2 separate regions of the Homo sapiens genome follow, and region 1 is linked to region 2. Evidence: fine-mapped expression QTL. A gene starts in region 2. The other region holds a variant in brackets. All regions are shown on one strand. Distances are between the middles of the regions.

Region 1 (5,381 bases), 870 kb before region 2:
CTATAGGGCACATGGTCTTTCTTGTCCTGAGGGTCTGTGAAGCTAGCATTTAATATTGTCACAACATTGAATGATCCTCTCCTTTCTCTCCAATAGCTTTGCAGTTAAGGAATGAAAAAGAGCAGGGGATGGAGAAAAGGCATCTGGAGAGCTGGCATATTGGGGCTTCCAAAGCACCTTCATGTTGCTCTCTCTGCAAAGATTTTGTTTCCTCCTCCTATTACCGTTATATTCTAAACTGTGTCTGACTTGCTACAGTAAAAAAAAAAAAAAAAAACTCAAGAACACAATGTTGAATTAAAAAAAGATACAAAAGAATACAAAAATTTACCCTTTACATTAATTTGAAAAACATACAAAATTGTACTGTGCATTGTTATGGAGATACCTTTATGCAGTAAGAGCTAGAAAATGCATGGGAAAGACTGACCTCAATATCATCATAATGGTAAAGACCACCTCCAGCGGCGCCACAGTTCCTGACCTTCACTGAGAACTTCCCACACACCAGGCACTGTTCTCATTGCTCACTAAAGCCTCCTGGAGAAGGAAAAAGAAGCGGTTTGGACCGCATGACTTTAGCGGTTTGGGGGCATGACTTTAGTTGTCTTTGAAATGAATATAGTGAGATGGGAGACCAGCAGGACTTATATTCCGAGCACCGATCATGACCCTACTAATCAAAGCAGGATGCAGCAAAGACACCAGCCGAAACCAGCGGATAGCAACAAAAGTGACCCTCTTGCCCTCACTGCTAATAAGCATAAAGACAGTCCCACCAGTGCCATGACAGTTTACAAATGCCATGGCAACAACCCAGAAGTTTCCTTATATGGTTCCAGGAACTCCCCCACCCCTTTTCTAGAAAATTCTGAATAACCTACTCCTTAAATAGCATATAACGAAGACTGTGTATAAATATAGCTAGCCAGCAATCCATAAGGACTGCTGCTGCTGCTGCTGCTGCTGCTCTGGGCAGCTCTGCCTATGAAAGAACCCTGCTCTGGGGAGCAGCCACTTTGCCATACACTGTTGCTCTAATAAACTTGCCTTCTTTCATTGCCAGCTCATTCTTCAGTTCTTTCCTGAGCAAAGTCAAGAACCCTCCTGGGCTGAGCCCCAATTTTGGGATTTGCCTGCCATCAATTGCAAAGTGGCAAAATGTTCACAAGTTAGAAATCTGGGTGGAGTGTCAGTTATTTTATTTTCAGTATTCAGCATGTTTTGAAATATTTCATAATTATTTTAATAAAAAGAAAAACAAAAGCAGTAACAAAAAAAAGGACACAAAGAATTTTTGTAAGAAAGGGCCTCTTTTGTCATGTCACTTTCCATGCATGGAGTGGCATCTCCTTCCTCAGACCTCTAAAATGCTGTGCAGTGTCATGGTGGGTTCTCCTCCCTTTCCTCCATTCCTACTCCACAGATGACCATGTCCGGCCCTGTGCTTTCACCCATATCACTCTGTGGAGGCCTCCCCAGTGTCTCTCTCTAGGCCTGCACCCTTCCCTAGCTCCAGGGCCTGCATCACATTTCCACACAGACACCAAAAGCATATAGAAAACTCAATTCATGTAGCATGTGGCAAACTCAATCCAAAATAGAATGCTGACTTTCCTTCAAAAACCATTTCTCCCCCAGTATTCTCCCATTGCAGTAACTAGCATCATCTTTAGAGTAAAAAGGACAACAATTTGATTCTTTCTCTGCTTCCTTCTTTCTCCCACATTCCACCACCACGTCATGAGCACACCCAATTGGCTCTACTTCACCACACACACATTGAGTCAGAATACATCTGTGTCCCCAACTGCCACCACCCCAGGCCCAGAGCCTCATCTCAGGTCTGCTCTGCTGACCACAGTCACCTCCCAGTGCTTGCCTGCCTTCACCCTTGGGCTACCAGTTTCTTCTCCATGTGGCTTTTCACAATGTAAACTCCTTCACTCAAGACCTTCCAAGGGCTTGAGTACCTAGAAGTTAGGAGAAAGTCCTTCCAGCGGTTTGCAGAGCACATATCAACAGACCATTGGTCCTGCCCTCCCCTGTCCATGCCCCGTGCCCATACTTTTTGCTCCCTGCACTAGTCATGAAGACCCCTGAGGACCTCCTTGCAATGTCTCAATCAGGCCCTAGCAGACCCTGACAGCCTGGCCTTTACTCTGATTATTCCCTCTTCTTAGATGCCTCTTTCTGGATATTTCTGTGGCTCACTCCCACTCCTCACTGAGGTCTCTGCTCAAATCTCATCTATTCAGAGAAACTTCCCTGATCACTCCATCTAACAGAACAGGCCTGCCTTGATTATTTCTCCTTGGCTGGATTCATGTTTCTAAGGTGGCGCCAGGCCTATAGTAGGCACTCAACACACATTTGTCAAAACAGTGAATGATAATTATTGACCAGCTCATTGCAGCCATTCACACATATGTTGATTCATTGCTACCAGCAAAAGTCCTCAGAGGACAGCACAGAAGACAGTAACTCGGAGAGTGTGCCCAGCCCCTCCATGGGGTTGATTCTGAGACTAGAATTCAAATCCACTTATTTTTACTCTAATCTTTCCCCTGTACCACCTTGCATCTCTCAAAGGAGGAAAGTAAGAAAAAGCAACATTCAACTGTCTGGTAAATGCTGCTGAAGATTGTAATAATCACATTTACACAATTTGATCTTCACAAACACCCTGAGAAGTAATGTCGTCTCAATTTTGGAGATGAGAAAGCTGAACCTTCTAAGAGGTTAAGTATTTAGCTTAAGATCATCATTTTTAATAAGAAACAGAATGTACCCCAGGCCTGCCTCATGCCACGGCCTGTGCTTTCTTAATGACATTCATCCTGCCTAAAAGTTGCATTTTAGATTCCCGTAAAAAGCCTGTGTCCTATCAACAGTGTAGGCTCACCCAATGTTTGCTGTCTGGTGATGATTCCAACTCTGTCTTCTTCCCTCTCCTGCCCCCCTCCCTCTACTGCTGGGACTGTTCCCCAGCACTTTCACCTTCTCCTCATTGCTTAC[A/G]CCTGCTGTGGCCTCAGAGGAGCAATAGCCTTCATGGGCCACCCAGAAGTTGGATATAAGAAAACAGGTTAGGTTGGAGAGAGTGAGAGGGAGAACAGCCAGTGCTGGAAGACAGGCAGTGCCCAACTTTCAAATGGGTTTGTTTGCTAGAATTTCTTTGGAGGGCTGTCATACGAAACTTCAAACACATTTCCCCATAGAAACAATATTATCAATGATGGTTAGGGTCTTGCAGTCATCCTTGAAGCCCTATATAATGCAGATGTTTAACCAAGATGCTACTAAATACTCCCAGAATTATTGAATCTCATTAGCAAGTCAGCATCAGTCACATGGATTCTGTGGGAAAATATAACCTTGAGTTCCGACTGTGAACACTAAGAACACTTCTGTTTACATGTTACACCTCTAGATCCTATCTCTGTGTGATACTCTTCTTACTATTCACCCCAACCCCAGCCTGAATTCAGCAGGGCTGGCTATAGGCCTGTAGTGTGATGAAGGCTACCAGGCATATTAAGGAGGAAGAGAGTACAGGCTCACACACTGGCAGGACAGCCTAGAGGGGGCTCCAGGGACTCCCAGAGGAGGAGTCTTCTGGCAGGACAATAGCCTATGTTTAGAACACTTATATAGTAGTAACTCCAGTTTCAGGGCAACAGCACATGTTGGGGGGTCTTGGGTGTTGTGGTACAGTAACTTAAGTGTGCAGGGGAATGAAAGAAAGTGAGCAGTATGGAGCCTGTCTCCATTCACAAGGGGCCGTGCATGCAAATGTGTGGCTGTCCCTGTGTGCGTCCGGGTATCTCTGGAGAGCACTCATGAGATAGGTGGTGACACAGAGTCCTGAAAAGTAACCCAGAGCAGGCATCCAACAGTTCTGGTTCTTGCTCCGCTTCCTTATTTGGGGGATTCTAGGCAACATGAAACCTCTCAGGGCCTTATTTTCCTTTAATGTTAAGTGGGAAAAATAATTATCCTCCATCCTACAGGGTCATTGTGAGTATCATCTAATATCATATTGTTGTGAAAACACTGTGTCCCATTTAATGTTGTGGTAGTATTAATATTATACCAAGAATTACGTAATAGGACACATGTTCTCCCAAACTTTATATTTTTTAGTGTTCTGCACCAAACAGTTAAGAGAAGGATAGCTATAATGGTTCATACATCCACTCTGGGTTTTCTGTTTGGTTGGTTTTTTGTTTTCCAGGGTTTTTTTTGTTTTTTTTTTTTCCCGGATGTGAGCACTCCTAGCCACAAAGAATTAGCTAGAGAGGAAGATTTCAGGCCAGATATACCTATTGCTTCAGGCCTTCTTTGTTTCTTCCACTCCTACTTTTTTTTTTTTTTTGAGACAGAGTCTCACTCTGTCACCCAGGCTGGAGTGCAGTGGCCCAATCTTGGCTCACTGCAAGCTCCGCCTCCCAGGTTCACGCCATTCTCTTGCCTCACCCTCCCAAGTAGCTGGGACTACAGGCACCCGCTACTATGCCCGGCTAATTTTTTGTGTTTTTAGTAGAGACGGGGTGTCACCATGTTAACCAGGATGGTCTCGATCTCCTGACCTTGTGACCAGCCTGCCTCAGCCTCCCAAAGTGCTGGGATTACAGGCGTGAGTCACTGTGCCGGGCCTCTTCCACTCCTACTTCTATTCTGCATGCTGCCATCCCCTCGGTCCATAGACCTCTGCTCGGGCCATCATCCCTTGACAGGTCTGCATATTTTACCTCTAGATTTTTTTTTTCAGCAGTCCATTTTTTCTTGGTTGTCCCACTGGAAAGGAATCTGATCAGTACTGTTTTTAAACATTGCAATAATAGTCAGATAGATCCCATTGTAGTTGAAGATTACTGGAAGAAAAAAAGAATCCAAACTCCACATGTAGGAATGTTGATCTGAGATGGGTTGTTTTCCAAGACCCATCTTAACAAGAAACATTAACAACCCAAGGAAGTTTCCCTGCTTGGAAAGTTTTTTCCCTTTTTTTCTACCTGCTGAATTATTTCTCCCATTTGTGATGTAAAGTTCCTTACGTGGAAAGTAAACATTGACTTAACTGACTCCTGTTAAATGACTCTTTTCTGTAGGAGAAGCCAGCCTATTTAGTGCCTTGCCATTTCAACATGTGTTCATACACTTATTAGTTAATTTGCCAGATTCCCTGTTTTAAAGTCCCAGGCTGCATTGTATCTTTTGAAAATTGAAGTCATGTACACAAACCACTTTCAAGTTAGGAGAGACATTAAAAATAATTAGGTCCTGCAATATTTCTCTAGAACCATTCCTTTCAGGATCTTGGCACGTGCTACATCATTAATGCATAGCCACCTGCTTTGGGATCAGGTGCTGCAAATTTT
Region 2 (5,381 bases):
CAGAGACAGAGAGAGAGGATGGGAGGGAGACAGAGACAGAGAGAGAGGAGAGAGGGGGAGAGAAGAGAGAGGGAAAGAAGGGGGAGAGAGAGGGAGAGAGGGAGGGAAGGGAGGGGGAGAGGGAGAGAGGGAAAGGAAGAGAGAGAGAGAGAGAGAGAGAGAGAGAGAGAGAGAAAGGATTGGCCCTAAGTAAGTGAGTGAATGGAGAGGGAGGGAGTTTGCTGTGAGTAGGGCTGTGATTAGGGAGGGAGGGACAGCCCGTTTTCTGACAGGCTGCTCTCCTTCTGCTCTTAGCTTCCTCACAGACACCTCTCTTCAAATATCACCATTTTCGGGGGTTCTACTTTCTCTTCTAAAATAAATTATCCTAATTTTGTTCACTATTTTTTTTTCTTTCTCTGCCCAGTCTCCTGGTTTCACCTTCTTCCTTTTTTGGAGGGGAGAAAAGAAACCCCAAACAAACACAGTGTCTCAATCAATAGGGATGAATTGATTGAAAAAGTGTTCCCACCGCCCCTCCACCCAGCCAAGCCACAGCCCTAGGTGGTAGAACGCCCACCTGGCCACGTGGTGGGGCAGAGGGTGCAGGGAGGTCCAGTGGACAGGTAGTGGAGGTCAGGGAAGAGGGACTCAGGGGTAACAGAGGATTGTTCTGGCCTGATGGGATCCAGGGGAGATGGTCCTTTCCCCCAATTCATTCATATTTAAATGTTCAGGTCATCAACACTGGCAGGCAATCTGAGGAGAGCGCAATGGAACTTTTGTTTGGGGTCATATAATACACTCCACTCTTCCCAACTGTGAAATGCAGCAGGGCACTGAAGGACCAGAGGGCAGGCAGCCTGTCACAAGCCCAAGTTCCAGAAGCGCTTTCTCCCCGTCGCGTTCAGCTGCCCCCTTCTGCCGGGGACCCACTCACTCTCACACATTACAGCCTACCACCACTCGCCGGACTTCACAGATAAAATGCAAAATTCTCTTGGCCTTTCCCACATCCTTTTATAAAAAGAGTGCACTCGTATGACTTGAATAACTGGTCCTATGGGAAAAGACTCTCTAAAATATATTGGCAAATTATTTTTCTCTGTCATGTGGTAGTTTTTTCAGCTTGCCCCAAGCCTGTCCCGACCAGTGCATTCATAGACAGCCTCCTTGACTGCTTCTTTTTCCCTCAAAGGAACAGTGCAGATGAAATCATCATGGATTTTAGTGTGCACAGAAAAAGAAAAATGTGAATTTTTTAACAATGCCTTTCTAAGGCTTAAAAAAAATTCTTCCCCCTCCCCTCTTTTTCATTTTCTGTCTTATTGCTTTTATCTTGCAGAAGAATCTTTAAGGGGTCCATCTGTTAAAGCGTTCCTTCCCTCTCGGTTTCTTTCCCACACATAAGCCCTCTTGGTTTCTGAAGATACACTCAGCTTATATCTGACACCTAGTGTGTTCATAGCATTACAGTCAAGCAATGCAGTTTAGGTGGAAAGAGTTAATAAATATCATTACTACAAGATAAGATCTGAGTGCAAGGGGAAGAGGGCAAGAAAATTGTGACACTAAGTTATAATTACAGTTTGCACAGGTTAACAATGCTTTCTGAATTATATATACTGTCCCCTTTTCCAAAACAACTATTTGTAAGACTTTTTCTGTTACAAGTAACCTAACACCTTTGGGGTTTCAGCTCCAGAAACATCAATTACTCCACCATTATTGTTAAAACTTTGTCAACATTGCCTAAAAAGCCTCATATTTTTTACGGGGATGGTGAAAGAGAATGGGGGAGGCAGGGGACATTTGTGTTACAATGGTTTTATAAAAAATCTTTGTGCTATAATACTTAACATCATCCACCTATTTGGAGTCACATATACAGTACCCAAAATGTTTTGCAGTTCAATTAAGTTTTACAAGAAAGTCTGAAATACAACCAAAAGTTTAATGGCTCTAAACAACTCAGGAGTCCTAATAGCAGCATTTAGATAAGTGCAACTTATCAATATTTGGATTCTCTCTGCATCTGAGTATGTGTGTGTTCCCTGAATTTACTGTTTGCGAATGTAACTCTTAAAAATAGCTTTCTCTTTGGCATATGTACTTGTATATATGTGCTGAGTGGCTTGTATAAACATATAATCTATTTGCATGCTCTAGGACTATTAAAAGCTGTATTAACCTGCCTGAATAATATAAAAAGGTACACATCACAATGCACATTGGAAATGCCAATTAGTTGTAAAATTCCTCCTAGCTTTCCTATCTTTGAATGTGTAAAGAGCTCAGAAGTAAGAGTTAAAAAGCATTACCTTTCTGGTCCCCACTCTTCCACCAGCCGGCTCTTGTATCATGTGGTAAGAGCTGTCTGAGCTCCTCTTCATGGTATTGGCACTGTGAAGTTTTATACTGTACTACTTATTTGTACACCACACATTGGTACCACTGAAACAGAGGAGGGCTGGGGCTTTGTTTGGGATTGGTTGGAATCAGCATGACATCAGCGGATGACTGGTTTTTCCAGTGTGAGACATTTCATAATTCATTATCTAATGGAAAGCCCTTCCTGGCTTCTGAGACACTACTGGGTGATGCACTGAGCCAGTGAAACCTCTGGCTAGGATTACTCTACCTTTTAGAAAAACATTGGAATCAAATAGATATGTCTCAATGAGTGTGTCCAACTTTCAACTTTTACTACTCGCACACACGTCTCGTTATATTCAGGTTCAGTTTTATGTCTTTACATAAAACATCTGTTACTTCATGAAGTTGCTTCTATTTACAAAGTATTTTATTGTTTCTTTCAGGAAAGAAAATTGGTAGTGTTCTTTATAGGGATTCTAATTTTATATTTTTAAAATAAGCTATTTCATTGAGGAAAAAAATTGGGAAAATCTGTATAATCATATGATGATGGTCTCCCCCGACCCCAACCAACTTACACTATTATTTTACATCTTGAAATTGAATGCCTGCTTCATAAATCAAGAACTTTGGAAATAGTAATTCTCTTTAAATGAACTTCATAAGTATCCTTCCCAGGTCTTTAGAATCTCATTCTAACTAACCAAACACACACACACACACACACACACACAACAACAACAACAACAAAAACCCTCATGCATCATTCTTTTTTACCAGAACTTCAACTCCTATAATTTCTAAATTGTTACAAATATAACAGCAGATTAATGAAAAGAAGTGAACACTCCTTGAAATAGGGGTAAAGCTGGTCAGGCTTTTTTTGTGGGGGAGGGGTGTTGGCAAGTCTGGTAAATAACACAGGAGGAAGGGGTCCTCTGACAAGAACGGTGAAGGGTTGTTTGAAGGACTACAGTTGAAGCATAAGCCCAGTTCTCATGACAAGTTGGATAAAATGTGCAAAATTGGGAGCTAATGAGAGCCATATGACCAGATATGTTGTTTTGTATGCAGGATTTAACATGCATAAAATAAACTTTTCACTGTGCCCACAAGCAAAATATAGAGGCTCTGGCCTCCTGATGTGTGGCTTAAGCAGGTTCCATTAGGACACCAGAAGTTTTCTGTGTAAAAGGGTCTCTCTTGGCTAGATACAGAGAAAGTGTGGGTGCTGAGCTGCATGGGGGTGGGGGGAAGGAGTATTCTAAGAACTGCATATGCAGAAATGAAGTAGGAAAAAAATCATTAGGTTGTAGAGGAAGAGAGTGAATCTGAGTGGCGAAGACAGAAATAGGATTAATGATGGTGAACTCCAAACCTGCCCCTCAGCTTAGCACTGGGTGAACTCAAACCCTTTATAAGAAAGAAACTTCTCCACCCTTTTTGCTGAGAATTAGTGGAGTCAATGACCTTCAGGGCATCTAAACTCACCCCTGACCCACACATGAACCCTAGTGTCCTGAAAACATCCCCTCCGCCTCCACACAAAGTAGTGTGTGTGTGTGTGTGTGTGTGTGTGTGTGTGTGTGTGTGTGTGTAGGTGACGTGGGGTGGGGGTGGGGGGCACAAAACAAACCCAGATCAGATCCCAGTTCCTCTGCTCACTCACCGTGTAAACTCAGGCCTCAGTGTTCCCATCTATAAAATGGGATCCATGATATGAACCTGTGGGGGTCAAGTGCAGCTGTCAGATAATAATAAGTGATACTATTTCTGAGAAGCCTGGTGGCTGTTCTTAAACATGGGTGTCACAGGAATCTGCAGCTCTCTGACCAGAGGAGCCACAACACAAGTGTGACTCTGAAACTCCGCTGGCCATCTGATGCCACCGAGTGCCCACCTGCCAGGCCAGCCTACCAGCCGTGCTGCAACCCCTCTGCAACCACCTGCACCACAGTGGCAATGCCTCCTCCCTCGGTGCAAATCAAGGTGGGGGTGGTGGAGGAAGCAGGCAGGTTAAAATAGCTTCTGTGGAATATTCTAGACTGGGAATCAGCTTTTCCCTGCGGAACTCAAGGGCCCGGGGCACAAGCTGGTCAGCCCAGTCCTGACCAGAATCTCCTTCTCCTTCCTTGGTTTGGTTTCTCTTTCACTTCCCCCTCCCCCGGAGCTTCCCCGCACCCCAGGCCCTTCGGGTCCCGGCTTCTCGGCCCTGCTACTGTACCTTGAGCAGCACCTGCTGGCAGCTTCCAGGGATCACGCCGGAACGCGGCCGCTGCTCGAGCCCAGCTCGCAGGATGCCTGGAGCCAGGGCCAAGCCGGTCTAAGCGGCAGCCTCTATTTTTACCCTGAGCACCAGCAAGGGCAACTTCTTTTAAGAGCAGCTCTTGATTTTTTCCCCCCTTTTGGCAGCTAAAGAATTCAGGGAGGGGAAAAAAATCACTGTTCAGTGAGTGCAGCTGGGAATCTCTGAACCCAGCCCTCAGTGCCAGGGAGTGAAACCACAGCAAATGTCAGGGAGCGGGACCTGCGGAGGGGCCGGCTGGCTCCCCGCGGACAGAGGCGAGCCGGGAGCGCTCGCGCACCAGCCAACTGCCCCCTTCTGAGTGCGGAGCGCGGTCCTCCAGCGACTGCACTAGCAAAGTGGCCCGCTGCCACCGCGTTATTCACCTAGTGGAGGCGGCCTGATTTACTGGCGACTTCACAAACCCAACTCCACGCTGGAGCATTTGCATGGCTCTGTTCTCGCCTCGAGGAGCAGCCACTAGCGAACCCGGTGGAGCAGCTTGCTGCGAGAAGGAGCCGGGAGGGAAACTGTGGTACCTTATTTTACTGTAATTGCAAAAGGAACGATGTGCCAGAGATTTATATTTAGAAGTTGTATGTTTCTACTTTTATGTAAATGGAGCAATTAGGGCCTGTCTTGCTGCTGCTAACTCCAATGCGTGTGCATTGCTGGGGAGCTGGTGTTTTCAATCACAATTAGTGAGCTGGTCAAAAAACAAAGTTCGTTTAAGGATAAGAGC

Alleles and levels. Alleles are on the strand shown, and positions count from the first base shown. SD is a standard deviation of normalised expression in the study named.
For the expression in tibial nerve of the gene that starts at base 2,386 in region 2, allele G in region 1 goes with a higher level than allele A (moderate effect, 0.72 SD a copy in GTEx).

What was found. PIP is the estimated chance that this variant, and not a neighbour inherited with it, causes the effect.
Region 1: its variant is fine-mapped to the expression of INHBA in tibial nerve (GTEx, PIP above 0.99). The same link has a PIP of 0.9 or more in pancreas and testis.

Annotation. Positions count from the first base shown.
Region 1 is chr7:40,828,318-40,833,698 of GRCh38, forward strand. The region is part of intron 13 of SUGCT (succinyl-CoA:glutarate-CoA transferase); the gene reads left to right. It overlaps LOC112267984 (a long non-coding RNA gene), which reads right to left and starts at 1,775. Exons shown (of 2, transcript XR_007060292.1): 1 at 431-1,775. The variant A/G (reference allele first, on the strand shown) is at 3,019.
Region 2 is chr7:41,700,705-41,706,085 of GRCh38, forward strand. INHBA (inhibin subunit beta A) reads right to left here and starts at 2,386. Exons shown (of 3, transcript NM_002192.4): 1 at 2,301-2,386. The region is part of intron 1 of INHBA-AS1 (INHBA antisense RNA 1); the gene reads left to right. RefSeq lists an enhancer at 4,427-4,516.